2 linked regions of the Homo sapiens genome follow. The protein of the gene in region 1 purifies or fractionates together with the protein of each later gene. This does not show direct contact. Each region holds a gene or a part of one and is shown on either strand. Other genes may lie near its edges.

The links. Proteins that work in one complex are often made in the same cells at the same time.
Region 2: the proteins of R3HCC1 (region 1) and PPP2R2B purify together in Homo sapiens (pull-down; one large-scale study listed by IntAct). This does not show direct contact.

Annotation. Positions count from the first base shown.
Region 1 is NC_000008.11:23,286,812-23,290,907, reverse strand, and holds the start of R3HCC1 (R3H and coiled-coil domain-containing protein 1), read right to left. Parts: upstream 2,801-4,096; 5' UTR 2,751-2,800; intron 2,403-2,750; 5' UTR 2,385-2,402; coding exon 2,275-2,384; intron 1,893-2,274; coding exon 1,755-1,892; intron 1,043-1,754; coding exon 439-1,042; intron 1-438.
Region 2 is NC_000005.10:146,592,258-146,595,757, forward strand, and holds part of PPP2R2B (serine/threonine-protein phosphatase 2A 55 kDa regulatory subunit B beta isoform), read right to left. Parts: intron 806-3,500; coding exon 714-805; intron 1-713. UniProt on the Homo sapiens protein: The B regulatory subunit might modulate substrate selectivity and catalytic activity, and might also direct the localization of the catalytic enzyme to a particular subcellular compartment.

The DNA of each region.
Region 1 (4,096 bases):
CAACTGAACCCACAGCCAGTCTCAGGGGCAGTCGCACGGTCCCAAGAAAACAAGATTTATAAGATAAAACTTCAGGCTAAAGAGTAATTTCCATGACTGGCATCCGTAACACAAGACGATGTACTTGCACACAGAGTCCATCTCCATGACCTAGTGAAGGCTGTATTATCAACTGGTTTTAGTTTCAGATGAGGAAACTGAGACTCAGCCAAACAAAATAACTTGCCCAGGGTCAAGCAGCTCCTACATGGCTGGGCTGGGACCCAAATCCACACCTCATCTCCTGAGTTCCCTAAGGAATCCCTGTCACCCAACACCCAGCCCTACCTCCCCTTGCACATCCCCTGCTCTCCACACCATAACCCTTGGTCCCCATCCACCCACGGCCACACCCACCTCACCTCCGCCCTCCCTTTTCGGGCTCAAGAGCCTCATCACCTCCTGCAGCAGCTCACTGTAATCGTCCTCCGAGCAGCTGCTGGGGCCATCCTCTTCCACCTCCTCTTCGTCCTCTTCCTCCTCTGCCACCAGCCTCTTCTCCAACAGACTCTCCTTCCCCTTTTCCAGGTCTAGCTGCAGGGTGGACCCAAACCGTGTGGCCATCTCCACCATGTCTCCCTTCCCTGACTGACTCTCAGGCCCCAGAGGCTCAGGGCCAACAGGGTCCAGCAGTGGCTCATTCTCACACCTTTGTCCTGGGCCCTTTAGGTCCTCTGTTCCCTGAGTCATCAGCACAGGGAGTCCCTGATCAGAGTTGGGGTCTCCAGCACCAACATCTCCAGGCTCTTCTGGGTCCCTGCCAGCTGGGGCCTCTCTCTTGAGCACCGAGGTAGAGGTCAGCCCCCATTCTTCCTGCCTGCGCAGCACCCGGGGCACATACAAAGGCTGGTCAGGCTTGCGTCCACGATACCACCGGCCAGCCCGGGCACCTCGGGGAACCGCAGCTGCTCCTTGGTTGGAGATGGGCCGAGGACCGTGGTACCTGCTGGGGCAGGAGGCAGGAGCGCGGCAGGGGCCAGAGAGGCCATCCGAACTGGGTACCCTGGAGCAGGAATGGGAGGAGGTAATCAGAGTGTGTAGGGGCCCAAAGGAAAATGATTTACTAGAGCCACTTGTCATTCAGGAGAGACATTCGGGTCAGCATTAGGCAAAAACCACAGCCAAAATGACCCTCGAAAATCCCTTAGGAAGGCATCACAGTGGAGGCTGTCACTTTTGCATGAGCCCAGAGCAGCCAGCTTGCCCTCTAGTGCTGTGATCCAAATTAGAGATCAGTCCATCTTCAGTTACACACCAGGGGAGGTAAGCTCTTGCATTTAAGAAGTATGCTATCAGAAAAACATGTCACTTCAAACACTAGGATCACAGTCATTAAAGTAAGATGCTCACTGAGACGCACATGGGAACAGAGGGGACCGAAGCCCAGCAGGTGCTTTTCTGGTCTCTGTGGGACACAAGCTCACTGAGAGGAATGCTAGGGAGGCCCCCCGCCACACACCCACTACTTAAACAGATCTCTCTCTCTCTTTTGGCCCAACCATATAGCTGATTTTGCCAAGTGAATTCCACAAACTGCATATCTGCTCCACTGTTGATGCAAAAGGCAGCCCTGGCTGAGCAGCTGCAGCTAGGAATGGCAGCAGCCGGGGGTCCCAGCCCTGGTTCCCCCCAGCCCTGCCCTTCCAAAGGCTGACCAGCTAGCTGGCCACCCACACACCACCGCTGCAGGCACTTCAAGGTGGGAGGCTACACACCTGATGTCCTGGTGACAGATGACCGTCCTCCTCTTCCAGCCCTCCCCAACGGAGAAGCTGCTCAAGAGATCAAAATTCTCTGCTGTTCTATGGATCAGGTACCGGAGGCGACTGGAGAGTGGGGGGAAAAGAAGAACCCTGGGGAGGGAGGGGAAGAAGTGCTGAGCAGGTGTCCAGGGCCTGGCCCCTACCAGGTCCACTCCCAGGTTAATCGCGGATTAACACTGGGCTCCCTTCTGCCCCTCTGGGTCCCAGATGGACTGCAAAGGATCTGAGCATAGATAGAGGTGATCGCAGGGACCCACAGGTCCCATCCCCAATCCCTGTGCCGGGCCCCATCAGTCTGGGGGTGATGCTCACAATTACAAAGATGCAGCTAAAAGAGGCAGCTGGCGTTATAAAGACTAAAGGCCAAGGTCAGAGCCAGCTGCCAGGCACCACCTGGGGGAGGGCACACAGGCGGCTCGGGAACCCTGCCCTTCCCAGCAAGGCGGCACCCTCGCCCCTCACATGAGCCTACTTTGACAGCTGCTTCTGCAGCAGAAAGCGGTCCAGTTCCTCCTGGATCCGGTGGACGAAGTCATTCTCGGCTGAGGAGAGGAAGACACCATCCAAGCAGAGAAGGGCCAGGGTGACAGGTGGGAGAGCCTGTAAGAGAGACGGGCAGGGCCGGGAATCAGAGCACAGACCCCCGGATCTCCCGCGACCCCGCAACGCCGGCACCGAAAGGGCCTTAGAAACCCTCTGGTCCAAGGCTCGGTGGCGGGGAAGTGATGCCAGGGACCCCCGGCAAGTCAGGGGTCAGGGAAGGGGTCTCCTGGCTCCTGCCCAAGGCTCTCGTCCCCGCCTGCGGTCGGATGCTGAGGGTGGCTCCACACCCTGCGCTGCGCTCCTTCCCGGGGCTCACGGGGGCCTGCTCCGCGCAGCCCAGCTGCTCCTTCCCACCCGGGAGCCCGGGGGTCGGGACGACCACCCCCCCAGTGCTGCTGCACTCACCGCGGCCTCTCGGCGCGTCGCAGCCGCCCTCGGCGTCCCCAGGGGCCAGCGCGCCCGAGCGCCCTAGAGAGACCCGGGCCGCTGCAGAGACGCAGCGCCACCGCGCGGCCTGGGGGAGGTAACGCAGGAACGGGAGAGTGCGTGTTCTTGTCACCTATTGGGAGGGGGCGCACCTGCCACCAACACAAACCGCTTCTCCTAGAGTGACACGACTAGCTTTCATATTCATGGCAAAACCGAGACCCAGACAGGTGAAATAACTTGCCTCAAGTTGCACAGATGGTACATTCTAGAGTCTTACTTTGAGCAAAGATAGGTCTGATTCCAAGATGGGCTCTTTTCTTTTTTTCTTCCATGTTGGCACAGTCTTGTAAGATCAATTAAGTTCAACAAACACTTTTGTTCAGCTACTATTAGGTTGGTGCAAAGTAATTGTGGTTTTGCTAATAAGTAAAAAACCGCAATTACTTTTGCACCAACCTAATAGCACTGTAAGCTAGCTAACGGCGGTGCTAGGGTTTCCCATTCATTGTTCCCCTCCCCAGGGACCTAACAGAGGAATAAAGAGGAAGGAAGTTTCTGAGCACCAGATATTTCAGCACTGTTGCCCATCATTGCCCTTCCTTCTCCCGCATTGATGTAACCTGTAAAAAGGTCTAATTCACACCACAGTGGCACTGACAAGGCGTGGTAGCCTTGTGGGTTACTGGGTTGGGCAGCCACTATCACGGTGATTTGCAGCTCAGCAGCTTGTGCTACTCTGCTCCATCCAGAAATAATTCTAGCGTCCACCTTAAATGGGGCTTAAAATTCTTGCCATCAGACAGCCTGTGGGATGGATGATTATAATCTAGGAGACCAGGGTTGAAATCGTTCTGCTCCCTGAAAGTAATTAAAATGCAGTCCCTTGGTCACTCTGAATCCGGAAGCACTGACCTAAGGGCACTTAAGACCTAGGTTTTGGTCAGGGGTGGGGCAGTCTGAGTGGGCTCTGACATAAAGCACAGGCGGGATGGGGGAGGGAGGGCTGTCCCTCAAAAAGCTGACTGGGAGAAGTGGCTTGGGGATGGAGAAATGGAGAAAAAATTAGATGCATTTTGCTGTCTCACAATTTTTTCCAACGCATTTCTAAAAATGACAGTGGCATTATATTATATTACAAAACCTATCTTTCCAGATACCCAGCAAGAAGAATAAAAAATGACCTAGAATAAAGACAAAACCAAAATGCAGAGAGAACTCAGGGAGCTGAGTCATGAATTTCCTTTCTGGGCATGGTTGTGAGAGGAGTTTCGGGAGATCTGACAGGTCCCCAGTCCCTAGACTGGAGGGCATTCAACTCCTGG
Region 2 (3,500 bases), on another chromosome or scaffold:
GAGAGAGACAGTTCATATTCACTGAAAGCTTGAATCTCTGAATGTCTTGCCATAACAGAATTTCTATGCTTTCAAACACTATTATTGGTGCCACCTTCATCAAGGAACGAAATCAGCCCCTGGTAGCTTGCACTTAGTTCTCATGGAAATCAGAGAATCATTTGTATTTGTCAAACTAAAAATGAACTATTGGGAGGTATTATGAAGCACTGTTCAAATCAAAGGCCTTAAAATAGTAATAAATCACTTTGAGGGAATGTGATAAATGAGGTTGACTAGAATTCAGTTAATGAACTACCAGGGCCGTTGGCCAGGTCTCCACTAGCAGCTTCAAGGGATAATTTTTGATCTGGAAAGCCTACTTGGCATTAATCTGAACTGTTCAGGCTGGAATTTGCTGGTGGATAAGTGATCTTCATTTAGGCATGTTGACCTAGTGCTGGAGGTGTCTTGTGTGAAAAAGATAGGACTTTCTTATTAACATTAAGGTGTTATCTGTGCCAGTTCAGAAACAGGATTCAAAGGCCTTACTACATCCTTCTCTTCTTTCCAGCCTTGACTTCAAGGGTCACTAGGGGCCCACATTATGCATTTCAGCCAGGTTTTGGGGCCCAATTTTGACCTCCCTTTGGCTGTACTCTACTTAGGATAAATTCCCTGAGCCTCTTCAAGACAATCTTTGGAAGGTTCTTCAGCCACAGAGCCTTTCTTACCTGTCTGACCCATTCCACACACACTCAAATTTATCAAAAATGCAGTCATTTTCATAGAGGGAACACAGCTTGCTGCGGAGGTAGTCATGAACCTGGAGAGGAAACATATCGAGAAGGTCAGTTATTATTTTAAACAGTAATTATTTCTGCAAACACCTCCTCTTCTGATGTGAGCTGTTAAATCTTTCATTGTACATGCTCTTTGAATCAGATGGCCTTGGATCTGAACCTAGGCTTGGCCCTTTTAGCTGTAGGACATTAGGATGGGTTGATGAGCTTCTCATGTAGATGATATGGATTAATCAAGCTTGCTTGTATAGACAGTGGCATCCAGTAAGACTAAATAAGTGGTAGATTCTCATTTTCTAAGCTGATTTGCTCACAGGCATTAGAGATCACCATTCATGCAGTCTTTTATTCAACAAATATTTACTGAATACCTACTACGCACTTGAGATGCAGCAGTGAGCCAAATATCCTTGCAGTGCTTTTGACCCAGTGTCAGGTGACAGATTATATAACCAAGTAAATAAATAAGATGTTTAGATGGTGATAAAATCATAGAACAAAAGTGTATGGAAAAAGAGCCTGGGAGATCTTGTCGGGGGTGTATTATTTTATACAGGGCAAGTAGTCAGGGCTTCACTGGATGAGGTAGCACTGGAGCAGAAGCCTGCAGGAGATGAATGAGCCACAGTGATGTCTGGGTTTGGGGTGAGGGGAAGGCTCTCCAAGCATAGGAAACAGCAAACATAAAGGCCTAGAGGCAGGAATCCTGGAGGGAGTGTGGTGGGAGAGGAGTGAGTAAGCAGCTGGGGGAGAGGATGATCAGTTTACATAGGCCCTTTATTCTGAGGAAGAAGAGACCTCACAGAAAGGATTGCTGAATCTGCTGTGTTGCAATGGATCCTAAGGGTGCAAAGGCAAAGGGAGGGAGACCAGTTATAACCTGAGTGATAGATTCTGGCCTGGACCAGGGCATGAGCAGTGATGGGGACTGGTCAGATTCTCCTTTTGTTTAGGGAAAGAGCAGATAGGACTTGGGTCAACTCTGAGGTGTGGAGAGAAAAACAGGAGTCAAAGATGACTCCCTGATCTTTCTCCTGAGCAAGTGGAAGGAGTAGGTACCATGTTCACTTTTGGGTACAATGGTTTAGAGATGTCTACATGTGGAGCTGTCGAGTAGACTCTGAGGTGAAAGGTGCTGTCCTGGAGTATGTGGCGATTCTTTCCTGGTTTCTCTTTTCCAGTGAAAGCAGCCAGCATGGTTATCAACTAAGAGTGAGCAGGAGAGAGAAAGGGTTGAGAAACAGTGTCAGATTTCTGGAAGGCACCAGGGGACACTTGACGTTGTTGGACATGTATGTCAAATAAGGCTCATCAAGCATAGTTGAATATTTTTCTCCAGCTACATTCAGCAACTCAGCTGTAGATGCCAAATAGATGAATAAGGTTCAGAGAGTAGTAGCCTGGGTTCTCTGTTTTGAAGGTAATCCTTCCTGAACCCACTAGCACGGAGTGGCAATAATAACGGGCATACCCAATATGCTGGCTTGTCATTATTAGCCAGGTGCTTTATCTGTCAAAACCTCATTTCATCTCTAAAGCCATCTTATGATGTAGGTACTTTCATTCTCTTTACTTTAATGGAGCATGAAGCACAGAGATATGACATCATTTGTCCAAGATCACACAGAAAAAGTGACAGAAGGGGAGGGAACTGAGCCCCGGTATCAGGCTCTGGAGTGCACACTCTGAGCTGCACTAGCAACCTGCCTCCAGCTTGCTCTGGTGGGTCCTCAGTCCTTGACAGGAGCTGTGATAATGAACTCAAGTGAGGCTGAGAGAGAAGGAGATAGAACTGTGTGAAAGCAGAGGGAGGCTACCAAGGGCATTGGTGTTTAAGTTAAGAGTGATGATTCGATCTCTTTTTTCCTGCAACTGCGGCTCTTTCTCTTCCTTCGACTCCAACAGTTCTGCTGGATGCAGAGCTTCAGGCTCTTAGTCTTGGGCAAAGGAACGAGGTCAGGCTCATCCTATGTTCCATTAGATGTTCTGGGTATTTGAAAAGCTCTGAGTTATTTGGACAGAGGAAGTTATTTCTAACTCTGCAAATTAATTTTCCCCCACCTTTACTCTCTCACTTCCAAACAGTTCCAGGCCTTGTCAGGGTAACAGCTTCAGTGCTTTGGTGACAAGGGAATACCCCTACAGCAGTGCTCTTGGCATTGTTAGGTGCATTTGGGGGCTGCAAGGGTGAGGCTGTGTCCTGCCCTTACAGAGGCATCTCTGCTATAAACTAACTCATTCACCTTCACTAGGGGGCACAGCAGTAAAGGTATATAAACTGGGCAGTGGCAAGGTTTTTAAGGTCTAGTTCCATATGTCTGCTTTGTGATGAACCTTTCCTCATCTGTCACCATTCACCTTCGGCATTTTGTCTTATTACTCACCTGCAGTGTTTCTATAAGTGTCAAAACATGTGTGCTTTGGAAGTCACGCCCATTAGCAGGAATGACATTGCTGAGAACTCTGTAAATAATTCTTGAAAGATAGAAGTTGGGATAGATTCAAGGGAAAACCTAGTCTGAACCATTATTTCTCCACCATACCTAAGGTCTGGGTAGCTCCTATCTGCCTCCAATTGACAGCATTTAAAGAAAAAGAATGTCTACTATGAAGGTATGCTGTATTTATGTTTTGTTGCACAGAAAAAAAGTCTTCTTAGGCAAACCAGAGGGACCTTTTTCTACTAGAGGAAAGAATAAAGTGAGATGTATACATGAG